Regions from separate parts of the Homo sapiens genome. Here region 1 is linked to region 2. The links come from fine-mapping of genetic effects on gene expression. Tissue or cell type: whole blood. Region 2 holds a variant in brackets; the other region holds the start of a gene. All regions are shown on one strand. Distances are from middle to middle. Region 1 holds the start of DCTD (dCMP deaminase). Region 2 has its middle 35 kb from the start of DCTD.

Region 1 (2,910 bases), 35 kb after region 2:
AATTTCCTATTTCAGAAGTTTGAATTTGAAACCTATAGCTTCACGTTCCCAAATATTTCATCTATTTACTGCTTTCTCATAGGATTTTTTATGCCAGCCTACAAATTGTTGTGTCCTTTACCTGTCTCCCTTACAAAGCGGAGTCAGCACAGGAGGAGGGTGGAAAAAAGAAATATTTATTGATCATCTATAGATTCCAGACATTGTTAAAGTTTATACACATCATGTCACTCAAGCCTTACTCCTAGCTAAGGTAGACAGTGCCATCCCATCTTACACAGACTCAGAGAACTTAGGTAACTTAACCTAAACCACACAGGATTATCATCCATGCCAGACGGATTCAAAGAAAACATCTGAAGCCTTCCCAACTCTGATATTAACCAGATAATTTTTCCCTTCCCTTTCTCCTCAATAATCCAGATGGGACAGAAGTTATCAACTCCGAGTAATGAATTACATGAGAAGAAACTATGAAAAACGTCAAGTGCTACTCCTAAAGCAAGGTTTTTGGAACGTAGTTTACCAGGGGCAAGCAGAGACTGTCTACGGCAGGGAGAGCCCACGAAGGGGGTCCTAGGACTTCAGGGGAGTGGTCGCTTTCAAAAGGAATGAAACAAGGGCAAGGAAGGAAGACAACACAAAAACGGGGTGGGTACCACGGAGAAATCTTGAGAAAGGCGAGGAATGTGGTCTAAAGGAAGGCAAGCATCTCCCAAAACTTCTGCTTCAGGCTCCACACTTTATTTAGGCATCTGCTACAGTGCAGGGCGGCAGTGCCTAAGACAAGGATGCAGTGGAGAGTGGGTGCTGGGAACCACGGTCACCCACTGATTACGCTGCCCCACATCTGAGAGGCCTGGCAACCCCCCTAACAGGAAAAGACAGGTGCTGAATCAGCCTGGTTTCCCACCTGGCTTTAGGGCCAGCATCCATCATCGCTGTGGGGTGCTGGAGAAGTACCTACTAAATAGGAGGGAGGGGGAGCCATGGGGGGCGAGGGAAGAGCAGGAGAGGGAAGGGTCCTGTTAATCCCCTGGGCGCCTTCTCCTGGTGTGGCTGAACGCCCACTAGAGCCCTGTGAGGACTGAGGCCCAGCTGTAGAAACAGAGAGAACTGGAGCTCGAATACAACGATTCAGGAAGACACATCCGGTCACCGTCCCAGGCACACCCCACGCCGCTCGCAACCCCGTCAGCTCTGATCCAGGGCCTACACCCGGCATTCCCAACCCACACACGGGCGCAGGAAGGGATGTGGTGTTCAGACGCCCAGCACCACCTCCCGGGGCACTCCAAGGGGCCCGGCCTCGCACAGGCCGCGGCGCCCGCCGAGAAATCGACCCTGGAGTGACTGCGGGGACCCCGAGCGCCCCCACCCCGCCCGCATTCTCCGATCTAAAGGCTGAGCGCGGCCGAGGCGCCCCCAGCGTCCGCGGCCCCAGGCCCCCGCCCGGCAGCCAGCGCCCCGCGCCACGCGCTCGGGACGGTGCCACGCGGCGGTGGCTAGGGGCGCGCGGGCCGCGTACCCGCACGGCTGGCCCCCGCCCACCATCCGGTGCCGGCTCCGCGCGCAGGCCGGTGCTCGTCCCCGCCGCCGCCGTGCTCAGGGAAGGAAGTCGGGGGAGGAGGCGGGGCCGCCGCGGGGCCGGAAGGGGGCAGCGGCCCGGGCGCCGCGCGTTCGCAGGACGGCGGCTGGCCCCGGGGGCCCGAAGCCCTGAGGGGAGGGAGGGAGGGACGGCGGGGGCGGGTCGCACGCCGCAAAGGCGCTGCTCCGCGTCGCCGTACGCCTCCCGGTCCCCGTGACGCAGCCCGCGGTCCGGCCGGCGGTGTTCAGAGCCCGAGCACAAACTACTTCCCGGGTGCCAGACCGCCCCGAGGTCGCCCCGCTGCCCGGGTCACGCGTGGCGCTGGGTGGCCGCGAGTTGGGCGCTCCCGGGCCTGACTGCACGACCGTCGGGGGCTGCTTGGTTTGGTGGTGGTGGCGGTGGTGAGGTTTTCCCCACCATCCGTGTTCCATCAACTGCTTAGAGACACGGCTATGGAGATTGTGATTAAAAGACGACCCCAAGAATCTAGTGCCGTGAAACTGGCGGGGCGGGAGGTGGGGAGACCTGGTTTGGGTCTCTGGAGTGAGCCCGCTGTGTCGCAGCGTCCCCGTGGGGACCCTTGGCCGGTGGCTGGGTCACAGTTTCACACACTGGATGGGGCAGGGAACTGGGTCCGGCGGGGGCGCTGTGCCTCGAGGCTCAGTGCCTCGAAGCTAGATTTGCATTTGGCTGCGCCTGACAGGCTTTCAGTTTCTGCTCAAATTGTGCGGAAGGGCCTGAGGTGTTTGCTAAAGCCTGCCGCGCCCTGCTCGACCCGTATCACCGCACAGGCACCCCACCTGCATGTTACCTCCTGGTAATGCTCGCCCACTTATATAGTGCACATTTTGTTGCAGTTGTTTCAAAGATGAGAAAAACAGGGCAATAGGAAAGACCATCAGTGACATTTCTGGAGTCGTATGCCCCAAGCAACTTAATCTGGTTTTCATGAACTTCGTTACCCTGTGCAGACGTCTAGCCCCTTACAGTGGTTCTAGCACAGAGAATGACAGAAGAACCCCTTTCTGTTTCATTCATGGGACTTGAGGGGACTGTCAGCACTCCATAAATAACAGCTACTGTAATAATCGCCAGTTCTGATCTGCACATCCCAGATTTGAACTGCTATTCCAAACAAAAGCTTGTTAACTATATTAATTTAGCCTAACGGAGGAAGAATGATGAGAGTAAACAGTTGGTTCTATCTAATTTCTCACTACAGCAGACACATCATTCTTCATCTCATGGTCCAGCTTGTAGATTCAATAATTAAATTATGTACTGCTCTTGGTGGATGCCGGGAAAGCAAAAGGGAGAAATAC
Region 2 (2,910 bases):
CCCGCCCAGGCCTCAGCATGTGCTGCTTGGACTTAGCCCTGCTATGGATTTAGTGACTGTTCACTTTGCTCCTCCCTACTCACGACCCAACAGACAATGTTTAGCCAAAGGTGCTTTGGGGCAGGAGGGGCACACTCCACCTTGGTCTCTTCTGTGCGTGCTCACCGTGACTCAGAGATGCTCGGCCATGACGCTTCTCATCAATCTGCTGCTGCTGTTTGGTAAAGAGCCCCACTTTTTCGTGGGTGGGGGGGGGAGGCATGTGTGGCCACGCTGCTCCTCACCTCTTTTTCCTGTGATTCTCGTAAGAACCTTTCAGAACCCTCTCCTCCCTGCTCCCACCCCTTTAAAGACAGTAGTAGCTGCTTAATCAAAATGTGCCCATGAGCACTGATGTTCTGAGTCGGTAGCAAAGGGCTGGATGTATTTATATGTGTATTTTTGTCAGGCACTTATCTTATGCCAGTGTGCGCCTTCCTCTGCCTCCTGGGTATGACCTGGGGCCAGCCTGTTTCTGTCAACGGCACCAGGGAAACAGTAGAAAGGAGAGGAACGTAGAGTCGTTATGAGTCTGTGAAATTTGGGAAATTAAATGAAAAGTCCACTGTGCCCTCCACTCAGCCTCTCCCTCTTGGAAGGCAGAGCTGCGGGGGGAAAGGCTGAAATCAGCTTCATTTCCCTCCATTCCTGACTCTAACAATACAGGAGAATCAAGGTCAGAAAACATGCAGAGAACACGCTCACAGTATGGAGTTTCTTCTAAGTAATACTTTTCTGATTCATTTTATTACAAAATTAAATAGTTGATCCATTTGAACTCTCATGAATAGATATTAAATGTTGCTTATTATAAGAATGCTAATAAATCATTAGTTTTTTTAATAAAAAAAATTAACCACCAAATGGCTAACAAATTAAATTTAAATCATTAAGTCTGATATTCCTAGAGAGGATCACAGGGGGTGGTACATTAGAGAACCTGTTTTTATTTTGTTTGGTTTTAAACACAAAGAGCCCGTGCTGGCTGCTGGCTCGAGCCTCCCTGGCCCCTTTCCAGACAGCAGCGAGCATCTGTGAGGCAGCTGACCAGGCGGAGCGGCCGTTTGGAGGGTGGCCGGGCTACCTGGGCTACGGGGCCGAGTCCGTGACCTCAGCCTCATTAGTCCTGGCTCTAACCAGCCGCGCTAATCAGCGCCAACATGTGCTGCTCAGGTGTTGATTGCTCTGTTGCTCATCACCCCTTCTAGGGCTGCCACACGTAATTAAAAGCTCTACCGCGAAGATGGCCAATCAGCCTCAGCTAAGCTTAGAAAGAACTATTGTCCCCTCTCAGTGTAAAGGATGCAAGAAACAGGAAGCCCCTGGTATGGGGACACAGTTTAATCAGAACTCAGAGCGCACCTTTCCAGCTGTCTGCCTGGACTGCAGAGAGACCTTGGCTGAATATTTCATCCTCTTGAAATATACTGCTGCGACCTGACTGAACATTTTCACACAGGGGCTTTAAATTAGAAGAGAGTCTGTGATATTCTCATT[C/T]GTAAAACCATAACAAACTGTTTCATTTGATCAGCTGCAGCAAACCAAGATAGCCTGGTATATACCAAGAGTTTGTCTATTTTTTTTCTTCTCTTAAAGCAATGATATTAATCATACCTTGCATATTCACTATATTATAGGAGATAAAAATAGAGGTAAAAAGAAAATGATCAATTCTTTAAAAAAAAAAATCTAATTCTTCCCCCATCAGGTGATGTCATCCGGGCCAAGAAATGCAGACATAGAAAGGGGCAAAGTCTTGGTGGTGCGTGCCTGTAATCCCAGCTACTCGGGAGGCTGAGGCAGGAGAATCACTTGGCCCGGGAGGTGGAGGCTGTGGGGAGTTGAGATTGTGCCACTGCACTCCAGCCTGGGTGACAAGAGTGAAGCTCTGTCAAAAAGAAAGAAAGAAAGAGAGAGAGAGAGAGACAGAGAAAAAAAAAGAAAGAAAAAGAGAAAGAAAGAAAGAAAGACAGACAGACAGACAGACAGACAGACAGAAAGAAAGAAAGAAAGAAAGAAAGAAAGAAAGAAAGAAAGAAAGAGAACGAACGAACAAAGTCAACAGCGAACAGACACTTCCAAAGTGCCTTTCGGGCTATAACCGTACTGTCATCTAAGGCAGCTGGCACCTCAAAGCATGAGCCTACAGATTCTTTCATGGGGTCTACCCTGTCAAAATGATCTTCATTATAATACTAAGATGTTTTTTGCCTTTTTTCACTGTGTGGACATTTGCACTATGCAACCAAAGCAATGGTGAGGAAAAGTGAGGGTGAAGGAATCAGAGGCAGTGGCGCCCACGTGCACTCTTCACCACCACATGCTCAGGGAAGAAAACAAAGGCAGAGAAGTAAAAAGACCATTTCCCTTAAGATGTCCTCAGCGATGCCGGCAGGAAAAAGTATTACTTGTAGGGAACCTCCACGTTGACGAGTCATCTTTTTCACACTTCCTGGGTGAGATGGGAAGCGTGCATGAAGCACCTCTGCACGTTGTCCTTAGGAAGAGTGCCACGCTCTTCCTGTTTGAGTTGCAAGCTCAACTAGCCCCTTTGTTCATGGGATGCCATTTTTACTTCAAAGAAAGAGTGACTGTGGATACTCAGATTTGGGGACATGACAGACATTTTCTTGAAAATGAACAAAGTAAGCTATTTATCACTTTGAGGGAAATGAAGTGATCAAATGATAAAATTCACGCTTTCAAGATAAAATCCGAATTTTGGAAAACTTGTTATCGGTCACTGTGAACTTGACAGCTTCCCAGTACTTAAAGAGAGAGATTTTTCTCAAATTAGTGGTGATGTTTACAAAAGTGATTTGGGGACGTTGTATAATGAAATGTGTCAAGTCTTGAAAGATCTGCATCATT

The links.
Region 1: it holds the start of DCTD, and the variant in region 2 is fine-mapped to the expression of DCTD in whole blood (TOPMed, PIP 0.98).

The regions. Positions count from the first base shown.
Region 1 is chr4:182,915,760-182,918,669 of GRCh38, forward strand. It overlaps DCTD (dCMP deaminase), which reads right to left and starts at 1,627. Exons shown (of 6, transcript NM_001921.3): 1 at 1,552-1,627. RefSeq lists a silencer at 1,259-1,968.
Region 2 is chr4:182,881,010-182,883,919 of GRCh38, forward strand. No RefSeq gene overlaps it. Among named protein-coding and RNA genes, the nearest start is that of DCTD, 35 kb to the right of the region's middle. The variant C/T (reference allele first, on the strand shown) is at 1,537.